Homo sapiens: one gene and its partners. The protein of the gene in region 3 interacts with the protein of the main gene of each other region in a pairwise test. Each region holds a gene or a part of one and is shown on either strand. Other genes may lie near its edges. The genes, in order: DXO, BCAT1, DNAJB6 and GINS3.

Region 1 (6,947 bases), on a different chromosome or scaffold from region 3:
TGGTGAGGTCCAGGTGGCTTGTGGCCTGAACCAGACGGTGGAGGAATTTGTGGGGGAGCTGAATTTTGGGCTGGTTGAGGTTGTATATGAGTGGGCCCGGGGCATGGTGAGTACCTGAGGTTTGGGATTTTGCAGACGGCTGGCTGGGGAGAACCTGCCCAGGCTGAGTGCATCCAGTCCTCACCCTACTTTCCCCACAGCCCTTCTCCGAGTTGGCAGGGCTCTCAGGGACCCCTGAGGGCCTGGTGGTCCGCTGCATTCAGCGCCTGGCTGAGATGTGTCGCTCACTGCGGGGGGCAGCCCGCCTGGTAGGAGAGCCTGTGCTGGGTGCCAAGATGGAGACAGCGGCTACCTTGCTACGGCGGGACATCGTATTTGCGGCCAGCCTCTACACCCAGTGAATGCCCCATGTAAAAACATGATGATAAAACAGCAAAGCACTGTTGTGTGCTTGAGTTGCTGGACAGGGATGACTCAGCTAAGAAGACAGCGAGAGAACCTCTTAGAAATATGCTTTTATTATCTGCACACAGAGATATGACTGCCTCCCTCTAAAGCATTACTATTTGGGAGAGGGAGTCTTGGGGGGTGATGGGAGGTCCTGAGTCATAGCTTCCACATACCATATGGGCAGGAAGGCGTAAGGTGCATCTTGGTGTACAGACACGGTGACTGGGCCGCCAGGCTCCCAAGAGAAGAGATGAACGAGCCTGGGGGGCAGATGGAGGCATCAGTTGAGGGCCAGAGGCTGGATCCTGGGATCCAGAGGGGAGGGACAGAGCTGAATGCCTCACCTGGGGTCATCCTGGACAACCGTGCTCTGGGCAAAGCTAAGGAAGGCGGCACAGAAGTTCATGCACACAGAGGGATTCCAGCCGTCACGGTCATTCTGGAGCAGGCAGAGGAGGAGGCAGAAGATGGGCAGTGGGGGTGGTGGGAGGAGAGAAGGCAGGCTGTTGCCCTGGATGCTAGACCTGTGGTCTTGGTGTTTGGGGATACGGGTGGGAGCTGCAACATCGTTCCCTTACCCTGACATATTCAAACATCTTCATGGTAGGAAAGGTCTTGAGGGAAGAGACAAAACCGTCTGGGTTACGGAAGCCAGCAACAACATTCGGGACCCCTGGGAGGAATGACTGAGCCCACCATTTCAGGAGCTTGTGTCTGACAGGAAAAGCAAGGGATCAGTGGGACCCCTCGTGCACCCTCCATTCTGCCTTCACCCTCCTCCCCAAGTCCCTTTCCCAGCCTTCAAGCCTAAGCTCTCGCCCTGCCCACCCCGATCCTGAACCTGTAGAAACTCCTCCATTGGCCAGGGCTGTGCATCTCCTTGGAGGTCTTGAGCTCCACATAGCAGGTTGGGGGCTGTGTGGATGGGGCTTGGGGGTCTGTGCAGTCTACCTCCCCTGAGAAGAGCAGAGGGTGGCTTCCCAGGCGGCTGCGTAGCACAGAGCAGAAGGCCACGTTGGTGTTAACCTCCCCAGAGGGGTCTGGGGAGCTTCCAGGTTTGTCTGCACAAGGAGAGAAGCAGCAGCAGGCGTGGGGGGCTCTCAACCTCTGGGAAGGGGAAGGGGGCTATGAAGCAGGGGCAACTCACCTGCACACATGTACTGCTCAAATTTGTATCCCATGTACATAAGCTCCCGGAGGAGCGGTGGCCGAGCAAGCCTCTGGGCCCGAGCGTTCGGTGTCTCCACTTCACTCAGGTATAGTGTTCCCTGGAACCGGGAGGCTGCCAGCTGCCAGCCCTCCTGCCGCTCATACGGTGTCGTCAGCAGTTTTGTCAGGTGCCCCCGCCACGTCACTATGGCCTCTGCCAGCCAGCCTGGACCCCTGAGAGGCAGGAGTTACAGGCTGAAGGTCTGACACAAGCATTAGTGAGATGCTCCCCTCGAAGAATAGTCTTGTTTCTTCTAAGGACTGATTCTCACCCCGGCTTTGGCTCTCCTAATTTTAGAGGGTAGGTACGGGTCTCCAGATATACTGCCTACCACGCTTTGCTCACCCCTCCAACCGGCCTCGGTGTTCCAGGAGCCAGCACAGCAGGTGGTCCAGCCTTTCCTGGACCTCCTCGTCCCGGGGCTGGTATCGATCCGGGTATCCGTCTCTGAGGTCAAAGTTGGGGCCTGGACCGTTAGTGGGGGGTGGGCTATAGTAGCGCAGGGCTCGGGCATCTCCATGGTACTGGCGTTGAGCATCCAGGGAGAAGCAGCCCAGTTCCGAAGGGCGCCGGTAGAAAGGAAAGGGCCCAGAGTAGAGGGCAGGGTCTGTGGGCAGAGAAGGTGCTGGACGAGGTAGTTTGTTCCGAGGCTCAGCTACCTCTGTCTTCTCAGCTCCTCTCTTGGTCCCCCTGGGATCCATGAGGTCCTAAGACAAGCAGGGGTACAGAGTTTCCATTCTACAGAGGAGGCCTGGAGAAGGATGACTGGTTTAGGACTAAGCGAGCCACCTGATCGCCAGGCTCTGGCCTTGAAACATTCAGGCCCCTCAGACGCCACCGCGGCCAAGCTCTCATCCTGCCTCTTTCCTTGCCCTTCACCCACCCTCCCTCCAGGTCCTCCAAATGCAGTGAGGTTAGGAAGGACGTCTGCGCTCAGATCAAGAATCCAGTTACCTCAAAGCTCCCCAACTTCCACCTCCGCAGAGCTATGACGTCATGGCAGGCACGCCAGAGGCCGAAGGATGCAAAAGTGGTTTTCTGCTTTCGATGATGCAATCATTCAGCGACAGTGGCGGGCAAACCCCTCCCGGGGCGGGGGAGGTGTGAGCTTCACGAAGGAGGTTGACACCAACGTGGCCACCGGCGCCCCTCCACGCCGCCAACGAGTCCCCGGGCGTGCGTGCCCTTGGAGGGAGCCAATCCGCGGCCGGCGTGGGGCCCGGCCTGGCGGAGGTGATGCTGGTATGTGCGTCGCCACCGCCCCTCCCAGCACTGACGGGCCTGAGGGACGACAAGTTGACGCTCCTTTCGTCATCACCTGGTCTAGGAGGGACGCCCGGGGAGACCGTACGTCACTGCTCTGCGCCGGAAGACCCTATTTTCAGGTTCTCTTCCCTCCATTCCTACCCCTTCCCCGGTACCATAAAATCCCGGGATATGAGCTGGAAGAGGCATCACCTGATCCCGGAGACCTTTGGAGTTAAGAGGCGGCGGAAGCGAGGGCCTGTGGAGTCGGATCCTCTTCGGGGTGAGCCAGGTAACCATGGCAACCCCGGGGGTGGGGCCTCGCTTCCGGTAGCCGAGAGTTTTGTTAGAACCGCGTCCCCGCCCCAGTTCCCTGTCCGTGAGCCGATTTATCTGCCCAGGGTCGGCGCGCGCGGCTGTCTCAGAACTCATGCAGCTGTTCCCGCGAGGCCTGTTTGAGGACGCGCTGCCGCCCATCGTGCTGAGGAGCCAGGTGTACAGCCTTGTGCCTGACAGGACCGTGGCCGACCGGCAGCTGGTGAGGGGCGTCGGTGCGACCGCCGGAAGCCCCTTTCCTAACTCCTGGAATTCCCTGTCACTCAGTCACTCCGCCAGCCGTTCAGCAAGCATTAGGCCTTTCAGGCGAGGGCACTGTGCCAGGCACTGGGGTGCCACAGAGACCCTGTTAAAAGTCCCGCAGGTAGTACAGGGCATTTCAAATCATGGAGGTAGAAGAACGAGGCTTTTGGGGAAACCGAGTCATGGGGCATGGTTCGAACATACAGCGCTGGGAGTGCAGTCAGACGTCAGATCATGACAGGCCTTGTACATCAGTGTTGTTTCCATCTTACACTGAGGCGATGGGCTGGTAGAGAATATCATAGAGAGAGGGAATGGTGTATTGGAGATAGTGGATGAGGCAGGGAGGTCAGCTAAGAAGATACTGCATCTGAGAAGTGGTGAAGGCCTAAATTAGGTCAGTGCAGTAGGGAGGGAGAGGAGAGTGAGGAAGAGGGAGGAGTCCAGGACAACTCAGACTTTCCAGATGACTGCGTGGCTGGTGGTATTAGGAGCACATTTAGTTGTTGGACTACAGATAATGTGTTTAATTTTATACAAGTTGAGTTGATGGTGCATGTGGAGCATCCAAAGACAAAGGTATTAGACAGTTGGATATGAGAGTTGGAGAGAATTCTGGGCCAGTGATAATAGAATTACAAGTCATGGAGGTGTGAATAGCAAGTGGTTAATTCTGTGATGTGGTGAGATCCAGTAGGAAGAGTGGGTAGAGGAGTGATTTCTAACCTTTTTGTAATCTTTAGAAGGTGATAAAAGCTATGGCTATCTCTCTCCAGAAAAATGCACGTTTGCCACATATACATAGGGTGTATGTATAGTTAGGGGGGAAATATTTTACTAATCCTGCGAGGTCCGTGGTTAAGGACTCCAGGTTTAGAGTGGAAGTTAATAGGGTCAAATCCACAATGCTGGGAAACACCATCATTTAAGGCAGTGTTACTGAATATATGAGCTGAGTTATTATGCCTGTGTCAAAATTACGTGGGCTGCTTGTTAAAAAAAATACAGGTTCCTGGGACTCATCCAAGGTTAATGAATTACGCTCTCTTGGGGCGGGATTTGGGACTCTACATTTTTGAACTGCCTCAAGTGCTTTTTAAGTGTGCCTTAAAATTTGAGATCCACTGACATAAAGGGAAAGCAGAAGAAGAGGAATCTGTGACAGAGGCAGAGAGGGACTTGCCTGAGTTAAGAGGAACCCAGAGGCCGGCGCGGTGGCTCACACCTGTAATCCCAGCACTTTGGGAGGCCGAGGTGGGTGGATCTCTTGAGCTCATGAGTTTGATACCAGCATGGGCAACATGACATAACCCCATCTCTACAAAAAATACAAAAATTAGCCAGGCGTGGTGGTACGCGCCTATAGAGCTACTGGGGAGGCTGAGGTGGGAGGATTGCTTGAGCTGGGGAGGCGGAGGTTGCAGTGAGCTGAGATAGCACCGCTGCACCCCACCCTGGGTGATAGAGCTAGACTTTGTCTCAAAAAAAAAAAAAAAAAAAGTAACCCAGGAAGAGGCCTACTGTGAAAGTAAAGAGATTTTTGAGAAAGTGAAGTAGTTGGCAGTATTAGAACCTGTGATTCAAGACAGTGGTCTAAGAAGAGGGAAGAGGTAAAGTAAAATATAAACTGAAATCTAGGCTGAGTGTGGTGGCTCATGCCTGTACTCCCACCACTTTGGGAGACTGAGGCAGGAGTATAGCTTGAAACCAAAAGTTTGAGACCAGCCTGGGCAACAAAGTGAGACCCCATCTTTACTAAATAACTGAGATCCCATCTCTACTAAATAAATAAATTAAAACACAAAAATTCTTAGCTGGGCATGGTGGTGTGCACCTATTGTTCTAGCTGTTTGGGAAGTTGAGGCAGAAGGAGTGCTTGAGCCCAGGAATTTGAGGCTGCAGTGAGCTATGATTGCACGACTGCACTCCAGGCTGGGTAACAGAGGGAGACCCTGTCTCTAAAAAAATGAAAACAACAACAAAAAAACCCAGAACTGAAATCTGTCCATTGGATTTAGCAGGTAGAAGGTTAATAGTGATCTTTCAAGAAAAGAGGAAAGAAAAGGAAGGCAGTCTAGCACTCACTTGAGGTGAGCTAGTCTCCCTGACTAGGTCTCCCGTGAGGAAGCATGCCAGATGGAACCACTCCTTAAGGAGTATTTGTTGATTTTAATGTATTGGTGTTAGCTTTTGTTTTTAAAAACCTTTAAAAGTTGCAGAATGAAAATATAAACATATATAATTTAAATGATGTTTATAAAGCAGATACCTATCTAGCCACTCCCTAGGTCAAACTATAGAATATGACCAGTATCCCACATATATCCCTCTCTGATCAAAATGTCTCTGATCAGAATGTCCCTGGGAGGTGACTGCTGTGGTCATTGTTGCCTTAGTTTTCCCTTTTTTTTTTTTTTTTTTGAGGTGGAGTGTCGCTCTGTTGCCCAGGCTGGAGTGCAGTGGTGTGATCTCAACTCACTGCAACCTCTGCCTCCTGGGTTCAAGCAATTCTCCTGCCTCACTGTCCTGATTAGCTGAGACTACAGGCACGCGCCACCATGCCCAGCTAATTTTGGTATTTTTAGTAGAGATGGGGGTTTCATCATGTTGGCCATAATGGTCTTGATCTCCTGACCTCGTGATCTGCCCTCCTCGGCCTCCCAAAGTGCTGGGATTACAGGCATGATCCACCGCACCCGGCCTAATTTTGTATTTTTATAGGGATGGGGTTTCACCCTGTTGGCCAGGCTGGTCTCAAACTCCTGACTCAGATGATCTGCCTGCCTCGGCCTCCCAAAGTGCTGTTTTTTTTTTTTTTAATTGTCTTTTTGATAATTCCACTATTTTTTTTTTTTTTTGAAAAGTCTCCCATGTCTACCTCTTTCCACACAGACACGGCAACCATCCGATTTCTCAATCTTTTCCCCACCTTTTCCCGCTTTCTAGTCCACAAAACCACCATTGTCATCGTGGCCCGTTCTCAATGAGCTGTTGGGCACACCTCCCAGATGGGGTGGTGGCCGGGCAGAGGGGCTCCTCACTTCCCAGCAGGGGCGGCCGGGCAGAGGCGCCCCTCACCTCCCGGACAGGGCGGCTGGCCGGGCGGGGGGCTGACCCCCCCACCTCCCTCCCGGACGGGGCGGCTGGCCGGGCAGAGGGGCTCCTCACTTCCCAGTAGGGGCGGCCGGGCAGAGGCGCCCCTCACCTCCCGGACGAGGCGGCTGGCCGGGCGGGGGGGGCTGACCCCACCACCTCCCTCCCAGACGGGGCGGCTGGCCGGGTGGGGGGCTGACCCCCCACCTCCCTCCCGGACGGGGCGGCTGGCTGCGTGGGGGGCTGACCCCCCCACCTCCCTCCCGGACAGGGCGGCTGGCCGGGCAGAGGGGCTCCTCACTTCCCAGTAGGGGTGGCTGGGCAGGGGCGCCCCTCACCTCCCGGACGGGGTGGCTGGCCGGGCAGGGGG
Region 2 (7,842 bases), on a different chromosome or scaffold from region 3:
GAAGCTGGCAACCTGAAACCCCAAAAGATGTAACTAATACAAAGGCTCAACATAGCTGCCATTTAGAAACAATCTTTCATTTATGCACAGGAATAATTTACTCATAAGCCCAGCCCTCTCAGTTAGGTTAATAACACCACTATCAGTTTTCCAGCTGTTTACTTCCCTAGCTTTATTTCTAGACATGAGAAATAAGGAACAAAATATATAATTAGGAAAACAATTGGAATGTCAGCCTACGGACAAAACTGAGACAAAATTTATATAAGTAGAGAGTATATTGAGGTCAAATTTGAGGACTGCAACCAACGAAACACCAAATCAAGTTGCCCTGAATATATACAGCAGTTACAAGTGGGTTTTTAAAAGAAAAAAGAGGCAGTTTCTAAGTTGAGAAGAATTTATATTAAAATAACATAAACTATATAAACTATTGATAGGCTAAACATTGTTTTTTTGTATCACAAATTCCAGGAACATAATGAGTGAGGCAGTTAGTCAGGAACAAAATGTCTTTAAATAATTACTCCTGCGCATGCGTACGGGGGGACGTGACTGAAGTCTCACACTCCTATCTCTCTGGGCCTGATAAATTGTGTAGCCTTCACAAAGCTCAGATCGCTCTGCGCTATTTTTCTTTTTTCAGGGAGTTGCACAGCTACTGACAGAAAGCACATCTTGGTTTTAGTCCATAGTACAAAACTCAATTGTGATCGAATGTTTTCAACTTCCTTTCATAATAAGGTTTTAAACTCATTTCAAATAATTAGATCTGGTTCTAATGAGCTGAAAAGCAAGAGAAATTCTTGCGTAAAAAAGGAAAAATATTTTTCCCCTTTTCTCTCTGTAGTTCTGAAATCCAGTGAAATTACTCATTACTGAAACTTATCAGATGAAAATATTGGCCAGCATTAAATTCTTTTCCTCCCCAACCCCCACCTCTTTTTTTCCTTTTTCTAACCACCACCCTTTTGTTAGGCCAGCTTAACTAGCTTTACATCTCTGAGCCTAGCCTGAGGGGCCACATCCTGTGTCTGGAATGTAAAACCTCTCTCCCCACTAGGCCTCCCGTCTTCCCTCCACACACACACACACACACACACACACACACACACACACACACACGGACTTCCCTTGCCTCCAATCCCATTTACATGTGTATCATTTTTAAATCCCCATCTAAATTTATTAAGTCATAATACTCACTTACCATTTTTGTACACATGCTACTCAGTGTATATCCTATGTTTCTTATCCAAGTTGCCCATTCTGCATGTGTCTGTCTTAAAATACAAGCTCATGCATGACTTAAGCCCGGAGAATTTGCTGAGGACAAAGGCAATCAAGATGCCATGTGCAAATAACATTTTTTTAAAAAATCAAGCTTGTGATAGCAATACATATTTAAGAGATAAGTGGAAAGATGTTTGAAATATTGTGATAAAACTAACTTAATGGAACCTTCCATACTTCTTCGATCATACCTAGAATACAATCATTTCTTTCTTAATCTTAGGAAATATCAGGAAACAGAAAAGAGACTACTTGTAGATATCTTACCTAGTTCCCCATGTTATAAAAGTATCTTGTGGAAGGGACAGGGGTTTTTGGACCTACAAAAACGCGTAATTAACCACAACTGCACATGGACAGGAAAAAGCTGGAAAAGCAAGACTGTTCATTCTTAGTTTTCTCCTTTTACTTACTAAAGCTATAATCAACTAAAGTGTGTTTTTCATCTGAAATGAAACAAGCATGAGGAAGCCAGAAATAGAACCTCTAACTATAGAAGAAAAGTTGTGTGATCTCTGTTGAATACAAAAACGCATAGTTTCCACTCGGTTACTGTTTAATTGTAGTGAAAGTTTTTGTTTGGCAACAAAGGCGCTATTTACATATTATTTCTTCTAAGTGAAACTATGGTCTGGGATGGGTTGTAGATAAGAGCAGTTGAGAACCACGCTTCATCTCCCTCCTTAGAAACTCTGAAACGAGGCTTTATTCCTACCAGAAGTTCAGATTGCATTATGGTCATCTCAATTCCAAAATGTTAGATGGCAAGAATATCTGCCCATCCTTCACTTTCCTTGGAAAAAGTTGCTCTTCGGGTTTTATATGCGATTGCAGTTTTCCAGTGTGTGAAACTAGGAAAACAAAACACTCAACGGTGTACATCCCTACACCTAAATAGTCAGAAATAATAGGCAGCTAGGCTAATTATCCTTGATTAGCAAGATCAGAGCCATTAGGGTGCTCACTGGTTTAACAAATGAATGCCCTTAGGCGTCTATCATTTGTAACTCCTAGAAGCTTTAATTTCCACAAGAAACAAAATAAGAGGGGCCTTCTGCTTTTAACAGTGAAAAGATCGTTCTCCCTCCCCTCTCCACCCGGGTCAACTCTTCCAGCCGCTCCCTCCTGCATCACGAACACACGCTGCAGGAAAGCGCATTTACAGCCCGGGACATCCCCAGACCTCCTCTCCAAAATTCCCCACCTCCTGTGCATAGGAGAAACTGAGAGAAGCCCTCACTTCCTTTCCAAACTTCACAAGCAGGGGAGGGAGCTGTAGCAGACTTTCACCTCCGTTCCCAAAAGCGAATGTGAAAAAGTCCGAGAAGGCACGTCCTGCGAGTGGAGGTTAAACCGAAATCTGAACAGAATGCACGGTCCCCGCAAACTACGATTGATAAAGAAGATACTGAGACGTTTGCGGGGGATATAAGCCATGGTTGTCTCGCCTTCCTCCCCTCCCTGCCAACTATGTTTCTTGGAGAAATCGCCGGTTCGATTCACGCACACATTTTTGTAAAACACGGACAAAACCATAAGTAGTTACCTTCATTGTTCCGTCGGCCACGAGGGAAGCTCGAGCTGAGCGGAGGGCAGATCCCAAGGGTCGTAGCCCCTGGCCGTGTGGACCGGGTCTGCGGCTGCAGAGCGCGGTCCCGGCTGCAGCAAGACCTGGGGCAGTGCCCGAGGCGGCGGCGAGTACACGTGGCGGGCTGGATTGCAGACCGGCCCTCTCGCGGCGGAGACTCGCGACCTAGCGGATTGCATCAGCAGGAAGACACTAAGGCTGCTCCCCCAGGCCGCCCCCAGATGGTGGAGTCTCTCCCAGCCCGAAGATTCGGAGCCAGCGCCCAGACCCGAGCCTCACTCACTGCTCACTCCCGGGGTGCAGGGCAGAGGTGCCAGTGTTGCAAGCAAATGACACGGTTACCCCCGAATCAGCCACTGTGGGTGCGTATCCGAGTGTGGGGATGCCCGTGTAACATTTATATGGAGACGTCAAGGAGGAGGAAATAAACAGATCAGAGGTCAAATGTGATTGCCATTCCGTCATCACTGGCTCCTGCCCACCTCCCTACTGTCCCCAAAGTAACTTTGCTGCATGCTGAGAGGACCACGGCACAATCCTGCCCAAAAGTATACATGTATCCCCCGCGGCTACTTTAAATGTACTTTTGCAGTAGTCAAGAACATGTGCCTGGTTTGCCGATCTCTTTCCCAGAGTTCCTTAGTCACCCTCAAATATAACCATTTTTGCCAATTTATTATGTACATGGGGGAAAATTTTTAATCCTTTAATTTGAGCATATAAAATTCTTTATAATGTGAAATTGCCCAGTAGCCTAGTTGGTCCCCTGTAAGTTCCCTCCCCACATCTATACAAAGCTCCAGGATTGCTACTTTTCCATGTCCAGCGCCTAGGTCAGCCTCCATGACTGCTTAAGTGTGCTGCTGGTTGACCTCCGCTGCCTCTCTGTCAAGCTGGCAAACTCCTATTTTTGTAAATTTCAACCCAAGTCTTTGCTGTGGAAGTTGCTTCCAATGCCCTCAAACAGAACTGGGCCCTTGGTCTATGTGCTGCACTTTGTCCACATCCTTTCTCAAAATCAATTATTTTATTTTATCATTTTTTAATGGAGATGGGGTCTCACTAAATTGGCCAAGCTGGTCTTGAACTCCTGGCCTCAGCAATCCCCTCGCCTCCGCCTCCCAAATTGCTGGGATTACAGATGTGAGACTGTGCCCAGCTTCTTAATTTTACTTTAATTATTTGTTTGCACAGTTGTCACTTCAGTGGATTATGAGATTCGTAAGGGCAGATCCTTTGTCATATTTATCTCCCATACCAAGTGGCCTGCCGTGGAAGAGAGGGAGTGTTGAAAACAAATGTGTCAGTGCTTAATGACTGTTGGTCAGGTGAATGAATGGTTAAATTATGTGTTCAATAAATGTACTGAGTGATTTCTACATGCTAGGCTGGTATATAACAGTGGTTTGTAATCTGAAATGTCTCAAAATGGAGCCATTTATGACAAGGGTTTCAGCCTCCAGTGAAATTGCTGACCCCTCAAATTGATAAGCATATGTATGGTGGACTGAGGTGATAAGATAACACCTGCTGTGGCCTGGCACCATTGGCAAGAGAGTAAAGAGAGAGGCAGCTGAGATAATGGCTATGGGCACTTGCGGATGCTGTGAAAACCAAAAAGTAATGAAAACCTGAAAGTAACTGACCACAGCCAAAATGCTTGCAGAAGTTCTGCCCTGAGAAATCTGTATCTGTAAGCATTTAATCAGCCATTGAGTCCTTGTGAAACCTCCTGGCCCCCGTCAGTGAAAGCACAGCTAGATAGATTTGAACCTGACACTGACATGAGACAGGCAATGTGCAAAATGCTAGGGACTGAGTGGGAAACAACAAAAATGTTCTTACCCTCATTAAGCTCATATACTAGTGTGAGAAACAGAAAGTAAGCTTTAAATCAGGTAGCAAAATGTTTATCAACTGAGGAATGGCTAAATAAAACATGGTATCATCCATACAATGGAATATTATTATATTCTGCAATAAAAAGAAATGAAGTACTGATTACATGCAGTCACATGGATGAACCTTGAAAACTATGCAAAGTGAAAGAAGCGTCTCACAAATGACTACATATTATATGATTCCACTTATCTGAAATGTGCAGAACAGGAAAATCCATAGAGACAGAAAACACATAGTTGTTTTCAATCTGGGGACAGGGTGGAATGCAGAGTGAATGTTCATGGGCGTTGGATTTCTTTTTGAATTGATTAAAATGTTCTCAAATTAGATTGTGGTAATGGTTACACAACCCTGTGAACACACTAAAAACCACTGAATTATACCCTTTAAATAGGTGAATTGTATGTTATGTGAATTATATCTCAATAAAGATGTTACTCTATGGCCCGGCATGGTGGCTCACACCTGTAATCTCAGCACTTTGGGAGGCTGAGGCAGACAGATCACTTGAGGTCGGGAGTTCGAGACCAGCCTGGCCAACATGGTGAAACCCCGTCTCTACTAAAAATTAGCCGGGCGTGGTTGCGGGGTGCCTGTAATCCCAGCTACTCACAAGGCTGAGTCACAAGAATCGCTTGAACCTGGGAGGCAGAGAGGTTGCTGTGAGCCAAGATCATGCCACTGCATTCCAGCCTGGGCAATAGAGCAAGACTCAGTCTCAAAAAAAAAAAAAAAAAAAAAAAAACAGGTACCATGTGGTAAATTTTATGAGAAAGAGTAATAAGGGGATAGAGAGTGATGGGGTCATAGATATAAATGCATTAATAAGTTCTAGAGCAAGCCTGGCAATTACTCCTAGATCCAACGACCGCCCCTCGCCCCCCTCTCCCTCAATGCAGGATTTTTCTCAGTCCCTTTGCCAGTCAAGGACCTCTAGCCGGCAATGCCGGAGGCCTAGCTCGGGGCATACTACCTGCTGCAGGAGGCACCCCACGCAATTTGCCCGCCTGAGACAAGTTTGCCTTGCACATTGGTTCCTGAGTTCTTGCCCCATGCCCAAGAAAAATGAAGATGTGCTGACAATTGAAGAGTGAGCAAGGCGGGGAGTTTTACTGAGGGATGAAACAGCTTTCAGCAGAGAGGGAAGCGGGGGTGGTCCCCCTACCCGAAGGCAGGAAAGTCTCCTCCATGAGGCTGAGTCCTGGGGCTTTTTATCGGCTCAGAATAGGGGAGGGGCAGGCAAACAGGAACAGAAATTCTCACTCTGCGTCATGGATTTCATCCAGGACCAGCAGTCTGGTCTTTCAGCCTTCAGGCTGTTTTTGGCTTGAAGGTACAGTTTCACCTCCAACCCTGTTGCTGTTACCCCTACTTAAGGATTCTTTTGATGTTAGCAACAAAGGAAGAGAGAAGGTAGTATATATTTAAAAAAAAAAAAAAAAAAAGAGCTTGAAGGGAAGTGAGAAAGTTAGGGAATTAACATCCACAGAAGAATATGAGGGCCGGGCGTTCACGCCTATAATCCCAGCACTTTGGGACGTCAAAGCAGGAGTTCAAGACCAGCCTGGGCAACATAGCAAAAGCCAGTCTTTACAAAAAATGCAAAAATTAGCTGTTTGTGGTGGTATGTGCCTGCAGTCTAAGCTACTCCCAAGGCTGAGGTGGAAGGATCACTGGAGCCCAGGAGATCCAGGCTGCAGTGAGCTGTGATCACTTCATACTTCACTGCACTCCAGCCTGGGTGACAGAGTGAGACATCATCTCCAAAAAAAAAAAAAAAAAAAGAAAAAAAAAGAATATAAGAACAATCTAGCTATGTCTCTCCTCCCATTTCCCTTTAGTGTTGATAGAAGGGCCCCACAGTTCTCCCTCATTGTCAACTGTAAACTCCCAAAGCTTCTCTCCCAGACAACACACATGCTTTTCCCAAATGATGAGGCTCATGATCAACGAAGGTTGTTACTCTGACAGTGGCACTGTACTTCAAACAAGTCACAGTAAAAGATATTTAAGGAAAACTGGATCCAAACTGGATATATACCATATACCCATCTATGGGCAGTGTCTTTTACTGAAGAAGAGACAGCATTTCTAAGATTTCTAATAGACACTAATTTTGAGGTTGACTCCAGAGCGCCAGACAGTCCAGCTTCATTTTGTCCTCACTGTTATTAACAAAGGCTTTTATTGCCATCATTATGAAAAATATGTGCCAACTACCTGCAGAATGTCTTCCCTGTATCTTACTAAATTTTCTCTAGGAAAGCAGAAACTCACAAATATTCTCTGCCTTGAGTTATTAACAGTTCCTGGAATTTGAATAGGAGAGTTTACATAAGGCAATGATACTCTGTCTTAAAAGAGGAAAATCTACTCTAAAATTCTACTCTACACACTCAGAAAACAATGTCATTCTCTTTCTCTATTTCTCATAGTAAAAAATACTTCAAAATTGTACTGTTTTTATATTTCCTATAATACTTGCATTCATTGCCCATTACATACATGTGCACACACACATGCATACACACACAGACACACACCAAGTTCAATACTCGAAAATCATTTATACTGTACTTTTTGGGAAATTTCCCATGACAATTTTGACTCACTGGATTTATTTTTATCCTTGTTGTACACACTCTAGTACCTAATCCCCATGTAAAATTAGATTTACTGGGTTGGGCGCGGTGGCTTATGCCTGTAATCCCAGCACTTTGGGAGGCCGAGGTGGGCGGATCACGAGGTCAGGAGATCGAGACCATCCTGGCTAACACGGTGAAACCCAGTCTGTACTAAAAATACAAAAAATTAGCCAGGCTTGGTGGCAGGCACCTGTAGTCCCAGCTACCGGGAGGCTGAGGCAGGAGAATGGCTTGAACCCGGGAGGTGGAGCTTGCAGTGAGCCGAGATCGCACCACTGCACTCCAGCCTGGGCGACAGAGCAAGACTCCATCTCAAAAAAATAAAAATAAAAATAAATTAATTCCTATCTATTTTGAAAGGATATTGTAAAGTCTTCTTTCTGCTAGTTCTCTAGAACCTCTCAGGGTACTTTC
Region 3 (7,854 bases):
ATAGGGAAACCGAGGCTTGTTGATGTGGGTAAAGTCAGTGCGTCATCAGCCCTAAAGTTTTATTGGGCATCAGGGGATGTGGGCACCACAGGGAACCATGCCTCGCACCCCTGTGGCCACTCAGCCTCCAGTCTGGCCCCAGTCAGCACTGGGTCCTCTTCCCTCTGCCCTGCAGCCTCTGTGCTTGCTGGCCCATGAAGCTTCTCGGTCCACTTTTGGCCTTGAACATTTCAGCTGCCCTCAACCCCCGGGGCTCCCTGCAAGCCATTACCCCAAATCCATCCACATTCTCCACGCTCCTCCTTTCTTTCTTTTATTTTTTGAGACGGAGTTTCACTCCTGTTGCCCAGGCTGGAGTGCAATGGCACGATATCATCTCACCGTGACCTCCACCTCCTAGGTTCAAGTGATCCTCCTGCCTCGGCCTCCCGAGTAGCTGGGATTACAGGTATGCGCCACCACGCCCGGCTACTTTTTGTATTTTTAGTAGAGACCAGGTTTCACCATGTTGACCAGGCTGGTCTTGAACTCCTGACCTCAGGGGATCTGCCCACCTCGGCCTCCCAAAGTGCTGGGATTATAGGCGTGAGCCACCGCACTCGGTCTCCAAAGACTTTTCACTCCTACTTAAATCTTTTCTGGGATAAATCCTTGTCATTGAAAGACCTCGTTGTTTCAAAAGAGTTAATTAAATATTACCATTTAATCTCCAAGGTGTTTATACCTGTCCTCCCTAACTGCTATGTGAAGTCCATCAGGATGGGGACCTTGTTTTGTACTGGTTGCTTTTCTTCATGATAAAATTTATTGTATTGACATGCTTCTTAAAAATTATGTATGTATTTGTTTAGAGACAGAGTCTTGCTCTGGCACCCAGGCTGCAGTGCCATGACATGATCACTGTTCACTGCAGCCTCGACCTCCTAGTCTCAAGTGCTCAAGTGGTCCTCTTACTCAGCCTCTTGAGTAGCTGGGACTATAGGTGTGTGCCACCATGCCCAGAAAATTTTCTTTTTTCTTTTTTTTTCCTGAGACAGAGTCTTGCTTTGTCACCCAGGCTAGAGTGCAGAAGCACGATCTCTGCTCACTGCAACCTCTGCCTCCCGGGTTCAAGCAATTCTCCTGCCTCAGCCTCCTGTGTAGCTGGGAATATAGGCATGTGCCACGACACCGGGCTAATTTTTTGTACTTTTAGTAGACATGGGGTTTCGCCATGTTGGCCAGGCTGGTCTCGAACTCCTGACCTTGTAATCTGCCCACCTCAGCCTCCCAAAGAGCTGGGATTATAGGCGTGAGCCACTGTGCCTGGTCATAATTTTCTATGTATTTATTTTTGAGACAGGGTCTGTGTTGCCTAGACTGGAGTACAGTGGTGCTCTACTGAAGCCTGGACCTCCCTGGGCTGAGGTGATTCTCCCACCTCAGCCGCCTGAGTGGTTGGGACTATAGGTGTGTGCCACCGCACTTGGCTAATTTTGCTATATTTTGTACAGATGGGGTTTCACCAAGTTGCCCAGGCTGCTGTCGAACTCTTGAGCTCAAGCAATCTTCTCGCCTCGGCCTCCCAAAGTGCCAGAAAAAAATAATTTATTTTTGGTAGAAATGGGGTCTTGCGGTGTTACCTAGGCTGGTCTGGAATTCCTAGGTTCAAGCAATCCTCCTGCCTCAGCTTCCCAAAGTGCTGGGATTACAGGTGTGCACCACTGTGACCAGCCTGATACGCGTTTTAATGTGTGTGTGTGTGTGTATATATATATACACACACACACATACACACACATATATTTTCTTTTTCGAAGGGGGAAAAGCTATTTGTGGCTAGCCTACCACTTACAATGTAAAATTCATGTCTGTGCTGCTTACATTTCAAGATGAGCTCACAATCACTGTAGGGACGTATTGACATGTAAAATGTCCCATGATAGTACTGTCTGTCCACACTGAGATGGAACTAAACCTCCATCAATCTGCAAGCAGATAGGTTACATGTGACAGTGCCAAGCTGTGCACATATCTGAAATTCCAGTCTTTGCTGAGATTATTTTAGGTTTTATTATGAGATGCCCATACTAACACAAACTATTATTTCTTCCTTTTGAACAGTCATTTATATAACCAGTAAAAAAAGAGAATAGAGGCTGGGCTTGGTGGCTCATGCCTGTAATCCCAGCACTTTGGGAGGCTGAGGTGGGTGGATCACCTAAGGTCAGGAGTTTGAGACCAGCCTGGCCAACATTGTGAAACCGCATCTCAACTAAAAATACAAAAAATTAGGCATGCATGGTTGCTCATGCCTGTAATTCCAGCTACTCAGGAAGCTGAGACAAGAGAATCACTTAAACCTGGGAGGTGGAGGTTGCAGTGACCCTAGATTGTGCCACTGCACTCCAGCCTGGAGGACAGACAGAGAGACTCAGTCTCAAATAAGAATAGAGAATCCAGTCAGATTTTCCTTTGCTAACTGATCATTTGCTAGAAATGACATGCAGTAATACAATTAAAGTTTAAGAAACACAAAAAATGAGCCCAGCACAGCGGCTCATGCTGGTAATCCCAGCACTTTGGGAGGCTGAGGCAGGAGGACTGCTTGAGCCCAGGAGGTTAAGGCTGCAGTGAGCCATGATTGAACCACTGCACTCCAGCCTGGGTGACAGAGCAAGACCCTGTCTCAAAAAAAAAAAAAAAAAAAAAAAAAAAAGGGCAGTATTTCATTTTGAAGTATAACAATTACAGCCATTAACCAAGTGTTCCAGTTGTCTAAAATGAGGCAGGTGTAGACGGAAAATTTTCCCTGTACTCTCTGAAGGTTTCACAACTGAGTCTCTGAACTAAGCTGACAATAGACAGATTCGTAAGAGAAAAAGTATACAAATCTATAACATGTACTAGGGCATCCCAGAATCCAGTGAGATCTGGAAGCTTATACAGCCCCTTCATAGAAGAGAGGGGAGGCAGATGCAGGCAGCTCAGGGGAGAGAAAATGATTTTTTGCCTTCAGAATAGGTGGTGGCCTGTGGCAAAATCTGTCTGGGTGTGCAGCTGACGTCCCTTGAAGCTCTTCTCCCGTGATCCTGGCTCATTCTTCCCTGGATGAGACTTCCAGGGAGGGGGTCAAGACAATTGAGTCCCTTTGGGATGATCTGTCTTTATGTAAATAATGGGGGATTCACAGAATGCCCCTCCCTGCATTGGCAGGTCCCCATGTGCCCTCAGTTTGAGGGCATACTAATGTGGTAATCAGTGAACTAGTTAGTAATCAGTATCCTAATATGGCATAATTCAGGGTGGCATTTCTCCAACTCTTTCATTACTAACGAGCTATTTTAAACCAAAAGTGATTCAAGTGTTAAAGTGCCTTTTACTTGAATATCTCCCAGGCTTAAACGATCACGAATTCATAAGCGTTGTTAGTTCAGAAGGTGGCTGAGCAGGCCCCCGGAATTCAGTGTCAGCATGCCACAGGATCTGAAGTTCAGGAAAGGTGTAACAAAAAGGGATTTTTCTTTTTTCTTGAGACAGAGTTTCGCTCTTGTTGCCCAGGCTGGAGTGCAATGGTGTGATCTCCGCTCACTGCAACCTCCTCCTCCTGGGTTCAAGCGATTATTCTGCCTCAGCCTCTGCAGTAGATGGGATTACAGGCATGCACCACCACACCTGGCTAATTTTTTTTGCATTTTTAGTAGAGACGGGGTTTCTCCATGTGTCAGGCTGGTCTCGAACTCCCAACCTCAGGTGATCCGCCCGCCTTGGCCTCCCAAAGTGTTGGGATTACAGGCGTGAGCCACCGCACCCAGTTGAGATTTTTATTTCTTAAAGGAAAGGATAAGGTGGGCCAGGACTAAGACAACACAGTAGCAAACATCTGGCTGAATGCTGGAGAGGAAGACAGTGGGAGATCCAGGCCAGGCTCCATGGACGAACTGCTTGTTGGCTCCTTAGGCTTTGGGTCTGCGGGACCCTTTCGCTACTGGGAATGGGAGCCTGTCTGACTGCACTGGGTCTGAGACTCCCTGCTCCTGCTGGTCACCATCTACACGCATGTGGTGTTGGTCTCCAGGGTTAGAACCAGAACCCCTGAGGACGCGGGAAAGGCTAGGAAGCCTGGGGATGACCTAAAGTCCAGCTATCAAAATGCGCCGCGTTTTCAGAAAAACTACTGCCACGATTTAACCTAAAAAGCTTCATCTGTATTTTCTGCCACAGTTTGCTTCCGTTTCCTTCAGTCACTATTCCCTGGCGAAGTCTCCACGCGCTCCCGTTCGCCGGGGAACTTAGGGTATCCGGGCTTCCCTAAATTGACAAGCGGGGGCCGGCGCCTTCGCCCGCCTTCGCTGGCCGCCGCTTGGTTTGTTCTTCTTCTCCTTCGGGGACTTCTCCGCCCGCGCCCGCGCCCGCGCCCCAGCTTTCGTCCCGCTGTGCGGAGATGCCACCCAGCTCCACCGCAGGACCGCGGAGCGAGAGGCGGCAGACGCGCTCCGGGGGCCGCCGGTCAAGAGGAAGATGAAGGGCGCGACGACTTCGCGGTTTCCAGAATGGGCTCCTTCTGGCCCAACAATAAGTGCCATTTGGAATCTTCTCGGCCTTCTCTGTGCCTTCCGCGCGTCTGGGCTCCCCGGTACCGTAGACCCGGCCCCGAGCTCCGCCCCCTCGCCCTGGGCTTCCCCGCCCCCTCGCCCCCAGTCTCCTGGGCTCTTCGGGGCGGCGGAAGAGCCGAGAACCTTCGCGAAGGTGGGGCGGGCGCCCCCGAGGTTGGGCCCGCGGTATGGGCAGTGGAAACTGCGCATGCGCGGCGTCAGGGTCGGGCGGAAGTTGACGCCGCCGTGCCGCCGCCGCGTGACGCATTTCCTGTTTGTTGTTGGAGAAAGGAGAGAAAGGAAAGCGCGAGGAGCCGCCGCCACCACCAGCGCAGCAGTCCTGGAGCTGTGAGGAGATTCGGGCCGTCACCCTGCCTCCCCTGCGTCCCGCCACCGGCCGCTTCTGTCCTCGGTGAGGGTCTGTTCCGAGGGTCGGGGGAGGTCGCCTAGGGCCCCGCGCGCGCCCGGCAGACGGCGGACCTCACCCGGCGCCTGGCAACAGCGCGGGGGGTGACCGGGGTCGCCGGCCGGGGAAAGGACTGGACGGGGCGGGGGCCGTGGCCGGGGTTGCGGGGCGAAGGGTGGGCGGGGTCCTCTGGGTCAGGTCTGGGGCCGGGGCCGGGGCTGGGGTCTGGGGCCGCCCGGCCGCGTCCTCCCCGCCCGGCGTCCTTGCCGGAACGCGGCCCAGCCTCCGCGGCGGCGGTTGGGGGTGGGGCCCGGCCTGGGAGCGGCCGGCTGGGGCTCGGCTGGGGCTCGGCGGGGCCGGCAGCGTGGGAGGCGTGGAGCGCCTTCTTTTTCTAAGGCTCCCGCACTCGCGTCTGAAACCAGAAACGGGAGTGGCTTGCGGAGCAGGAATGCCGCAGCCGTGCCGCCAAGTTCGGAGGGAGAAGAAGCAGGTGGGGGACCGCAAAGCCCTGTTTCTAGAACTCCGGACGGATTGTTCAGAAGTTTGTGGAAGAGCAGGCTGCCTTTCTCACTCAGAATGTTTGTCTGCTTTGCTTTGCGTTAAAGAATCTGCACCGTAGTTGATGCAACTGAAGTTTATATAAGAAGTTTACATTAACTCTTACCTAAGGAAGGTCAGTGACACACGCAGTGTAAACTGCAAATCATATATTGGCTCGAGAAAGGTTTTGGCACTAGCGAATTTTTTAAAGGATGGGTTTGCTAGTCAGACGTAAACTTCTGTGCTAACTTCTCACGTAAACGGGGCAGGAAACAGCGCAAGTAGAACGATCGTGCCACCACCGAAGGGGTGCCGCCTGCGAGCTCGGAGGCTTCAGCCTGTTTGGGAAGAGTAGGCTGAGCGGCGCTCTTTGTAGTTTTCAACGTTTTTATTGAGTTGCGAATTTTAGTAAGGATTTGTCGCTACAATTTAAGCCAAATTATTGATTTAGTAGAAAAGTTAGAGTGAAGACCGAAGAAAGGAAACAGACGTTAACCATTAAAGCTTGATTGCTGCTGCTTCGTGTTTAACCGCACTTTTCCAAATAGTGTTGCGTATCAGAACGATTCATGATTTCTGAAAGGAATTATATGCAGCCGCCTTACTCCTCCGCCAGTCCACCCGTCCCGCGTTCTCTCTGGGTTTACTCCAGACTTCCTTTTTTTTTTTTTCCTGAGACGGAGTCTGTTCTGTTGCCCAGGCCAGAGTGCAGTGGCGCGATCTCCACTCACTGCAACTTCCAGCTCCCAGGTTCAAGCGAGTCTCCTGCCTCAGCCTCCTGAGTAGCTGGGGTTACGGGTGCTCGCCACCATGTCCGACTAATTTTTGTATTTTTAGTAGAGACGGGGGTTTCACCGTGTTGGTCAGGCTGGTCTCGAACTTATGACCTAAAGTGATCGCCTGCCTCGGCCTCCCAAAGTGTTGGGATTAGAGGCGCGAGCCACCGCGCCTCGCCGACTCCAGACTTGTTTCCACTCCTGAGGGCCTTAAGCTCCCTTGGAGTTTGTGCTTTCACATTTCTTTCTGCCTTCCGTGATAAAGGGATGAATAGTTTTTATGCACGCTTCAGCGAGCTGCGGGTTTTTGTGGATTACGCAGGCTGTGAAATTTGGGAAGTAAGTTGCCTTAAGTTGGTAGATGTGGAGATTTGACAGGAAGTGGGAGAACAAAGGGGTTGGGAAGCTTTTGGAAAGTGTCCAGGCTTCATCTGTGCTGTGGAAGGTGAGAAAGTTGGGAATTCCAGAGGGCAGAGCTCTTAAAGAATTTGAGATGAGTTCAGCACTCTCTTCAAAACAGTGTTTTAAAATTTATTTTCTTCTGGATATGAAAGTGTTAGGTTTGGGAAGTAATTCTGGCTGTAGGACAGTTTTTCCGGAACACTAGGTGGGGAGTGTTGAATGTTGTGAAGACTAAAATATGCATATGGTATTACAGTGTGATACCTGTTACTGAGTGGCGTACATTAGCTTTCATTTTTAAGCAAGCCCGTAATTCCCTTCTATTAACTCTGTTTTGGACAGTGGTACCCGTCACCCTCATCAGTCTTCAACCTAGATAACCTAAATCCAGGTCTGAGGTGGGGGTGGAATGGTCTGTTTGCACCTTTTTTTTTTTTTTTTTTTTTTTTTTTTTTGAGACGGAGTCTTGCTCTGTCGCCCAGGCCGTAATTAATGCGGTGGCGCGATCTCGGCTCACTGCAAGCTCCACCTCCCGGGGTCACACCATTCTCCTGCCTCAGCCTCCCGAGTAGCTGGGACTTCAAGCTTCCGCCACCACAGCCGGCTAATTTTTTTGTATTTTTTTAGTAGAGACGGGGTTTCACCGTGTTAGCCAGGATGGTCTTGATCTCCTGACCTCGTGATCCGCCTCCTCGGCCTCCCAAAGTGCTGGGATTACAGGCATGAGCCACCGCGCCCGGCCTTTTGTGTGTGTGTGTGTGTGTGTGTGTGTGTGTGTGTGTGTGTGTGTGAGATGGAGTTTAGCTCTTGCCCCTGCTGGAGTATAATGGCACCATCTTGGCTCACTGCAACTTCGCCTCCCAGGTTCAAGCGATTCTCCTGCCTCAGCCTCCCGAGTAGCTGGGATTACAGGCATGCGCCACCACGCCCAGCTAATTTTTTCTATTTTTATTAGAGACGAGGTTTCACTATGTTGTTCAGGCTGGTCTCGAACTCCTGACCTCAGGTGATCCACCCGCCTCGGCTTCGCAAAGTGCTGGATTACAGGTGTGAGCCCGCGCGTCCGGCTGTCACTTTAAAGAGTATTATAAGAGGGCACTTCATAACTTGGGCAGGTATTTTTAGTCATCCTGAACGTGTCGCTGTGGACTGGGTG
Region 4 (7,020 bases), on a different chromosome or scaffold from region 3:
GTAAGAGCCAAAACTCTCACAAGGGAGAACTGTTGCAAAAAGATGGGAGCAGCTTTGTGGGTGTGGAAGCAGAGCTTTTGGCAAACTGCACAGGACTAGACAGACCAATATTGAGTTCAAGGCTGCCAACACCACCAGGACATGAGGGCCTAAGATCTGAGAAAGAAGGGAGGGAAGTAAGCCCCCTATTTGACACCGAATAGCAGAGAAATTAGGCGCCAACTTTAAGATAAACTTAGAAATCAAATGGAAATTCCAGAACTGAAAAATACAATAATTGAACCTAAGAAGTCAATAGATTAAATCAAATTTAACATGTTTACTGGATTGGATTTGGATGAAGACAGGACTGTGAATGAGAAAAGGTCAATAGAAAATAACCAGACTAAAGTATCTAGAGAAAAAACAGAGAAGAGCCTAAGAGATGTATGAAATAAGGTGTAAAAGAAAGACAAAGTTCAACATGCATGTAATTTGATGGGCAGGAGCGATAGATTGAGGCAAAATAAATGTCTGAAGAGATAATAGCTATATATTATCCAAAATTAAAAAAGGTATCAAACCACAGATTCAAGGAACATTATGAATAACAAGTATTAATAGAATAAATACTAATAAAATCACAACTAGGCATATATTACCTGAATTACGAGACCAAAGACAGAGAAAATCCTAAAAACAGCTGTAGATGGGAGTGACGAACACACTGCCTTTAAAGAATGAACATTAAGAGTTAAACCCAACTTTTTGGCAGGGGCCGGTGGCTCACGCCTGTAATCCCAATAAAAGGTGAAGCCGGCTGGGCTTCTGGGTTGGGTGGGGACTTGGAGAACTTTTCTGTCTAGCTAAAGGATTGTAAATGCACCAATCAGTGCTCTGTATCTAGCTAAAGGTTTGTAAACACACCAATCAGCACTCTGTAAAAACAGACCAATCAGCACTCTGTAAAACGGACCAATCAGCACTCTGTAAAATGAACCATCAGCTCTCTGTAAAATGGACCAATCAGCAAGATGTGGGTGGGGCCAAATAAGGGAATAAAAGCAGGCCACCAAGCCACCAGCAGCAACCTGCTTGGGTCCCCTTCCACGCTGTGGAAGCTTTGTTCTTTAGCTCTTCACAGTAAGTCTTGATGGCTGCTCACTCTTTGGATCCCCACTACCTTCATGAGCTGTAACACTCACTGCAAAGGTCTGCAGCTTCACTCCTGAAGCCAGCGAGACCACAAACCCACCAGAAGAAAGAAACTCCGGACACATCTGAACATCTAAAGGAACAAACTCCGGACACACCACCTTTAGGAACTGTAACACTCACCACAAGGGTCTTCGGCTTCATTCTTGAAGTCAGCGAGACCAGCGAGACCAAGAACCCACCTGAAGGAACCAATTCCAGACACACCAATAATTTGGGAGGCCAAGGCGGGCAAATCACATGGGCTCAGGGGTTCGAGACGGGCCTGACCAACATGGTGAAACCCCGTTTCTACTAAAAATACAAAAATTAGCCAGGCATAGTGGTGGGCGCCTGTAATCCTAGCTACTCAGGAGGCTGAGGCAGAAGACTCGCTTGAACACAGGAGGCAGAGGTTACAGTGAGCCGAGATCACACCATTGTACTCCAGCCTGGGCGACAGAGCAAGACTCTGTCTCAAAAAAGAAAAAAAAAAAAAAAAGCCAACTTCTTAACAGAAACTGTGGAAGCCACAAAACAATGGAAATGGAATTTTTTTTTTATGTGCTAAAAGAACATAACTGTGAGTGTAAAATCTTATACCCAGTGAAAATATCCTTTAAAAGTAAAAGTGAAATAAAGGCATTTCCATAGAGAAAGTATGCAGGAAAGATACACAGTAGGCCTGAGGCTGCTATCTTAGCAAGGCCTGCTGCAAGGTTGGCCCTTGGTTGGCATTTGGGAACTTGGATTTCAGGAGGATTCTCACCCGTCCTAGAACTGATGAGAGTGTGCCTGAACTGTCTGTGCAAACAATGTGATTCATGTTGAACACCTGCTTTCCCTCTGGAAGTCTGAATTTTGGTCTGTGCTAGACAGAAAGTGCCACATGAACAGCCTCCAATAAAACCCTGGGGACTGAGTCTTTAACAAGCTTCCCTAGGAGACAGTATTTCAAACATTTTATCAGAATTCAAATTACTGGAGAATTTAAGTGCATCCTGTGTGACTCCACTAGGAGAGGACTCTTGGAAGCTTGTGCCTGGTCTCCTCCAGACTTTACTCCATGCAACCTTTCCCTCTGCTAATTTTGCTTTATATCCTTTTGATGTAATCAATCTTAACCATGAGTGTGACTATATGCTGAGTCCTTTGAGTCCTCTTAGTGAATCATCAAATCTGGGTTGGTCTTGGGCATCTGTGACACAGACAGAAACTGAGACTTATCACCAGAAGATCCAGAATAAGGGAATTCTGAAGAGAGAATGCAAATGATTCCAGAAAGAACTACAGAAATGCAGAAAGGAAAAACAAGTCATGAAAAGAATATATAAGTGGGTATATAATAATAATGTTTTACAGGGGTTTTCAATGAGTCAAACTAGAATACATCACAATAACACAAGAGAAAAAATGGGTTTAAGTGTTCTAAGATTCTAGTCATTTCTGTGAAGTGGTGAAAGTAGTAACTTATATAACATTCTTTTTGGTCAGAAATGATTGTGTAATATATTTAAGGTAGCCACTAAAATAACAGAAGAATATATAACTAAATAAACTAATAAAAAGGTAAATGAATAATAAAATAAATTTGATTAATGCAAAAGGAAGTCAAGAAAGGATAGAAAAAGAAAGCTAAAACAGATGGGACATAAGAAAATAGTAAGAAGGTAAAAATGAATACAAATATGTCAATAATTAAATGTAAATGGATTAAATATAACAATTAAAAATCAGCACACTGCACACAAAACAAAACCCAACTATATGCTGCATAAAAGAGACATACCTTAAATATGAAGACACAGAAAAATTAAAAATAGGATTAAAAAAAGTCATGTAAACATGAATCAAAAGACAGGAGCATTAGAGATAAAGGGAGACGTGACAATAATAAAAGGGTCATTATATCTACCAGAAAATTATTAATATATGTCTAAATTAACAGAAGTAAAAGGATAAACAGGCTAATCCATAATCATAATGAGAGACTTTAACATTTTTTCAATTTTTTTTTTTTTTTCAGAGAGGGGGTCCTGTTCTGTCACCCAGGCTGGAGTGCAGTGGTCTTCTAGGCTCAAGTAATCCTCTTGCCTCAGTCTCCTGAGTAGGTGGGACTATAGGCATGTGCCACCACACTCAGCTAATTTTTCAATTTTTCCTAGAGACAGGGTCTTGCTATGTTGCTTAGGCTGATCTCAAACTCCTGGCCTCAAGTGATCCTCTCACCTCCACCTCCCAAAGTGCTAGGGTTACAGGCAGGAGCCACCATGCCTGGTCCACATGTTTTACAGGATAAAAAAAAAAGTAGAAAAAAAAATTGCAAGGATAGAGAATATCTCAACAAAACAATTAACAAATGAGCTAATTTACACATACGGATTATTTATTGCACACTATGACTTCCCATAGACATCTTTTCAAGTCCACACAGAATGGTTAAATTGGTCTTATGCTTTGCCATAGAGCAAGTCTCAGCAACTTTCAAGACTGAAATCATGTAGACTATGTTTTCTGGCCACGGTGGAATTAAGCTAGAAATAAAAAATGGTAAATGACCAAATCTCAAAATGTTTGAAATTAAGCACTAGTCTTCTAAATACCTACAGGTCAAAAAAGAAATCACAATTAAACAGTATTTTAAACAGTATTTTAAAACGCAAAATTAAACAGTATTTTAAAATTTTTATTTATTTTCTTTTGAGACAGTATCTTGCTGTGTCATCTAGGCTGGAGTGCAGTGGTGTGATCACGGCTCACTGCAGTACTGACCCTCCAAGGCTTAAGTGATCCTCTTGCCTCAGCCTCCTGAGTAGCTGTGACCACAGGTGTGTGCTACCATGCTCGGCTTTTTTAAAAAATTTTTTGTAGAGATGGGGACTCACTATGTTGCCTAGGCTGGTCTCGAACTCCTGGGCTCAAGTGATCCTCCTGCCTCCACCTCCCAGTGTTGGGTCTATAGGTGTGAGCCACCATGCCTGGCCTAAAAAGTATTTTTAGTTCATTGATAATGAAAATATAACACATCAAAACTTATGAAACGCAATTAAAGTTGTGAATTGAATAGAATAATTTCACTTAAAAGAAATGAATAGCTATGAATGTATAAAAGAAGATTGAAAAATTAATGACCTAGGTTTCCATCTCAAAATGTGTATCTGTGTGTGTGTGTGTGGTGGGAGAATTAAGCCCAAATAAAGTAGAAGGAAAGAACTAATTAAAAAATTAATGACCTAAAAAACAAAGGTACAAAAGAGAAAACCAACAGAGTCCTAAGTTAGTTCTTTTAAAAGAATAAAAAAATTGATAGACTCCTGGCAAGGGTAATCAAGAAAGGGAGAACACAATTTATTGATATTAAAAATAAAAATAAGGACACCACTGTAATCCTACTGACATTAAAAAGATAGTAAAGGAAATTCTGAACATTGTACTGATACCATTGAAAATTTAGACAAGCTCTCCCTCTCCCTTTCCCTCTCCCTCTCCCCACGGTCTCCCTCTCCCTCTCTTTCCACGGTCTCCCTCTGATGCCGAGCCGAAGCTGGACTGTACTGCTGCCATCTCGGCTCACTGCAACCTCCCTGCCTGATTCTCCTGCCTCAGCCTGCCGAGTGCCTGTGATTGCAGGCGCGCGCCGCCACGCCTGACTGGTTTTCGTATTTTTTTGGTGGAGACGGGGTTTCGCTGTGTTGGCCGGGCTGGTCTCCAGCTCCTAACCGCGAGTGATCCGCCAGCCTCAGCCTCCCGAGGTGCCGGGATGGCAGACGGAGTCACGTTCACTCAGTGCTCAATGGTGCCCAGGCTGGAGTGCAGTGGCGTGATCTCGGCTCGATACAACCTCCACCTCCCAGCTGCCTGCCTTGGCCCCCCAAAGTGCCGAGATTGCAGCCTCTGCCCGGCTGCCACCCCGTCTGGGAAGTGAGGAGCCTCTCTGCCTGGCTGCCCAGTCTGGAAAGTGAGGAGCGTCTCTGCCCGGCCGCCATCCCATCTAGGAAGTGAGGAGCGTCTCTGCCCGGCCGCCCATCGTCTGAGATGTGGGGAGTGCCTCTGCCCTGCTGCCCCGTCTGGGATGTGAGGAGCATCTCTGCCCGGCCGCCCCGTCTGAGAAGTGAGGAGACCCTCTGCCTGGCAACCACCCCGTCTGAGAAGTGAGGAGCCCCTCCGCCCGGCAGCTACACCGTCTGGGAAGTGAGGAGCGTCTCCGCCCGGCAGCCACCCCATCCAGGAGGGAGGTGGGGGTCAGCCCCCCGCCCGGCCAGCCGCCCTGTCCGGAAGGGAGGTGGGGGGGTCAGCCCCCCGCCCAGCCAGCCGCCCTCTCCTGGAGGTGAGGGGCGCCTCTGCCCGGCCACCCCTACTGGGATGTGAGGAGCACCTCTGCCCGGCCAGCCGCCCCGTCCGGGAAGGAGGTGGGGGGGTCAGCCCCCCGCCCGGCCAGCCGCCCCGTCCGGGAGGTGAGGGGCGCCTCTGCCCGGCCGCCCCTACTGGGAAGTGAGGAGCCCCTCTGCCCGGCCAGCCGCCCTGTCCGGGAAGGAGGTGGGGGGGTCAGCCCCCCGCCCGGCCAGCCGCCCCGTCCGGGAGGGAGGTGGGGAGGTCAGCCCCCCGCCCGGCCAGCCGCCCCGTCCGGGAGGGAGGTCGGGGGGTCAGCCCACCGCCCGGCCAGCCGCCCCGTCCGGGAAGGGAGGTGGGGGGATCAGCCCCCCGCCCGGCCAGCCGCCCCGTCCGGGAGGGAGGTGGGGGGGATCAGCCCCCGCCCGACCAGCCGCCCCGTCCGGGAGGGAGGTGGGGGGGTCAGCCCCCGCCCGGCCAGCCTCCCCGTCCGGGAGGTGAGGGGCGCCTCTGCCCGGCCGCCCCTACTGGGAAGTGAGGAGCCCCTCTGCCCAGCCAGCCGCCCCGTCCGGGAGGGAGGTGGGGGGGTCAGCCCCCTGCCCGGCCAGCCGCCCCATCCGGGAGGTGAGGGGCGCCTCTGCCCGGCCGCCCCTACTGGTAAGTGAGGAGCCCCTCTGCCCGGCCAGCCGCCCCGTCCGGGAGGGAGGTGGGGGAGTCAGCCCCCCACCCGGCCAGCCGCCCCGTCTGGGAGGTGAGGGGCGCCTCTGCCCGGCCGCCCCTACTGGTAAGTGAGGAGCCCCTCTGCCCGGCCAGCCGCCCCGTCCAAGAGGGAGGTGGGGGGGTCAGCCCCCCACCCAGCCAGCCGCCCCGTCCGGGAGGGAGGTGGGGGAGTCAGCCCCCCGCCCGGCCAGCCGCCCCGTCCGGGAGGTGAGGGGCGCCTCTGCCCGGCCGCCCCTACTGGAAAGTGAGGAGCCCCTCTGCCCAGCCAGCCGCCCTGTCCGGGAGGGAGGTGGGGGGGCCAGCCCCCCGCCCAGCCAGCCGCCCCGTCCGGGAGGTGAGGGGCACCTCTGCCCGGCCGCCCCTACTGGGAAGTGAGGAGCCCCTCTGCCCGGCCACCACCCCGTCTGGGAGGTGTACTCAACAGCTCATTGAGAACGGGCCAGGATGACAATGGCGGCTTTGTGGAATAGAAAGGGGGGAAAGGTGGGGAAAAGATTGAGAAATCGGATGGTTGCTGTGTCTGTGTAGAAACAAGTAGACGTGGGAGACTTTTCATTTTGTTCTGTACTAAGAAAAATTCTTCTGCCTTGGGATCCTGTTGATCTGTGACCTTACCCCCAACCCTGTGCTCTCTGAAACATATGCTGTGTCCACTCAGGGGTTGAATGGATTAAGGGTGGTGCAAGATGTGCTTTGTTAAACAGATGCTTGAAGGCAGCATGCTCGTTAAGAGTCATCACCACTCCCTAATCTCAAGTACCCAGGGACACAAACACTGCGGAAGGCCGCAGGGTCCTC

What was found.
Region 1: the proteins of DNAJB6 (region 3) and DXO interact in binary tests that used the Homo sapiens proteins (3 or more experiments, as listed by UniProt).
Region 2: the proteins of DNAJB6 (region 3) and BCAT1 interact in binary tests that used the Homo sapiens proteins (3 or more experiments, as listed by UniProt).
Region 4: the proteins of DNAJB6 (region 3) and GINS3 interact in binary tests that used the Homo sapiens proteins (3 or more experiments, as listed by UniProt).

Annotation. Positions count from the first base shown.
Region 1 is NC_000006.12:31,969,315-31,976,261, forward strand, and holds DXO (decapping and exoribonuclease protein), read right to left. Parts: upstream 2,683-6,947; 5' UTR 2,615-2,682; exon of another isoform or gene 2,368-2,614; 5' UTR 2,362-2,367; coding exon 2,006-2,361; exon of another isoform or gene 1,992-2,005; intron 1,961-1,991; exon of another isoform or gene 1,861-1,960; intron 1,834-1,860; coding exon 1,598-1,833; intron 1,512-1,597; coding exon 1,292-1,511; intron 1,165-1,291; coding exon 1,029-1,164; intron 954-1,028; exon of another isoform or gene 890-953; coding exon 795-889; intron 711-794; coding exon 563-710; 3' UTR 501-562; downstream 1-500. Other genes in the region: SKIC2 (superkiller complex protein 2), read left to right, coding at 1-106, 201-401; WHR1 (winged helix repair factor 1), read left to right, coding at 2,683-2,902, 2,988-3,197, 3,307-3,443. UniProt on the Homo sapiens protein: Decapping enzyme for NAD-capped RNAs: specifically hydrolyzes the nicotinamide adenine dinucleotide (NAD) cap from a subset of RNAs by removing the entire NAD moiety from the 5'-end of an NAD-capped RNA.
Region 2 is NC_000012.12:24,946,088-24,953,929, forward strand, and holds the start of BCAT1 (branched-chain-amino-acid aminotransferase, cytosolic), read right to left. Parts: upstream 3,015-7,842; 5' UTR 2,846-3,014; coding exon 2,840-2,845; intron 1-2,839.
Region 3 is NC_000007.14:157,332,159-157,340,012, forward strand, and holds the start of DNAJB6 (dnaJ homolog subfamily B member 6), read left to right. Parts: upstream 1-4,845; 5' UTR 4,846-4,986; intron 4,987-5,395; exon of another isoform or gene 5,396-5,653; intron 5,654-7,854. UniProt on the Homo sapiens protein: Has a stimulatory effect on the ATPase activity of HSP70 in a dose-dependent and time-dependent manner and hence acts as a co-chaperone of HSP70. Plays an indispensable role in the organization of KRT8/KRT18 filaments.
Region 4 is NC_000016.10:58,395,465-58,402,484, reverse strand, and holds part of GINS3 (DNA replication complex GINS protein PSF3), read right to left. Parts: intron 1-7,020. UniProt on the Homo sapiens protein: Required for correct functioning of the GINS complex, a complex that plays an essential role in the initiation of DNA replication, and progression of DNA replication forks.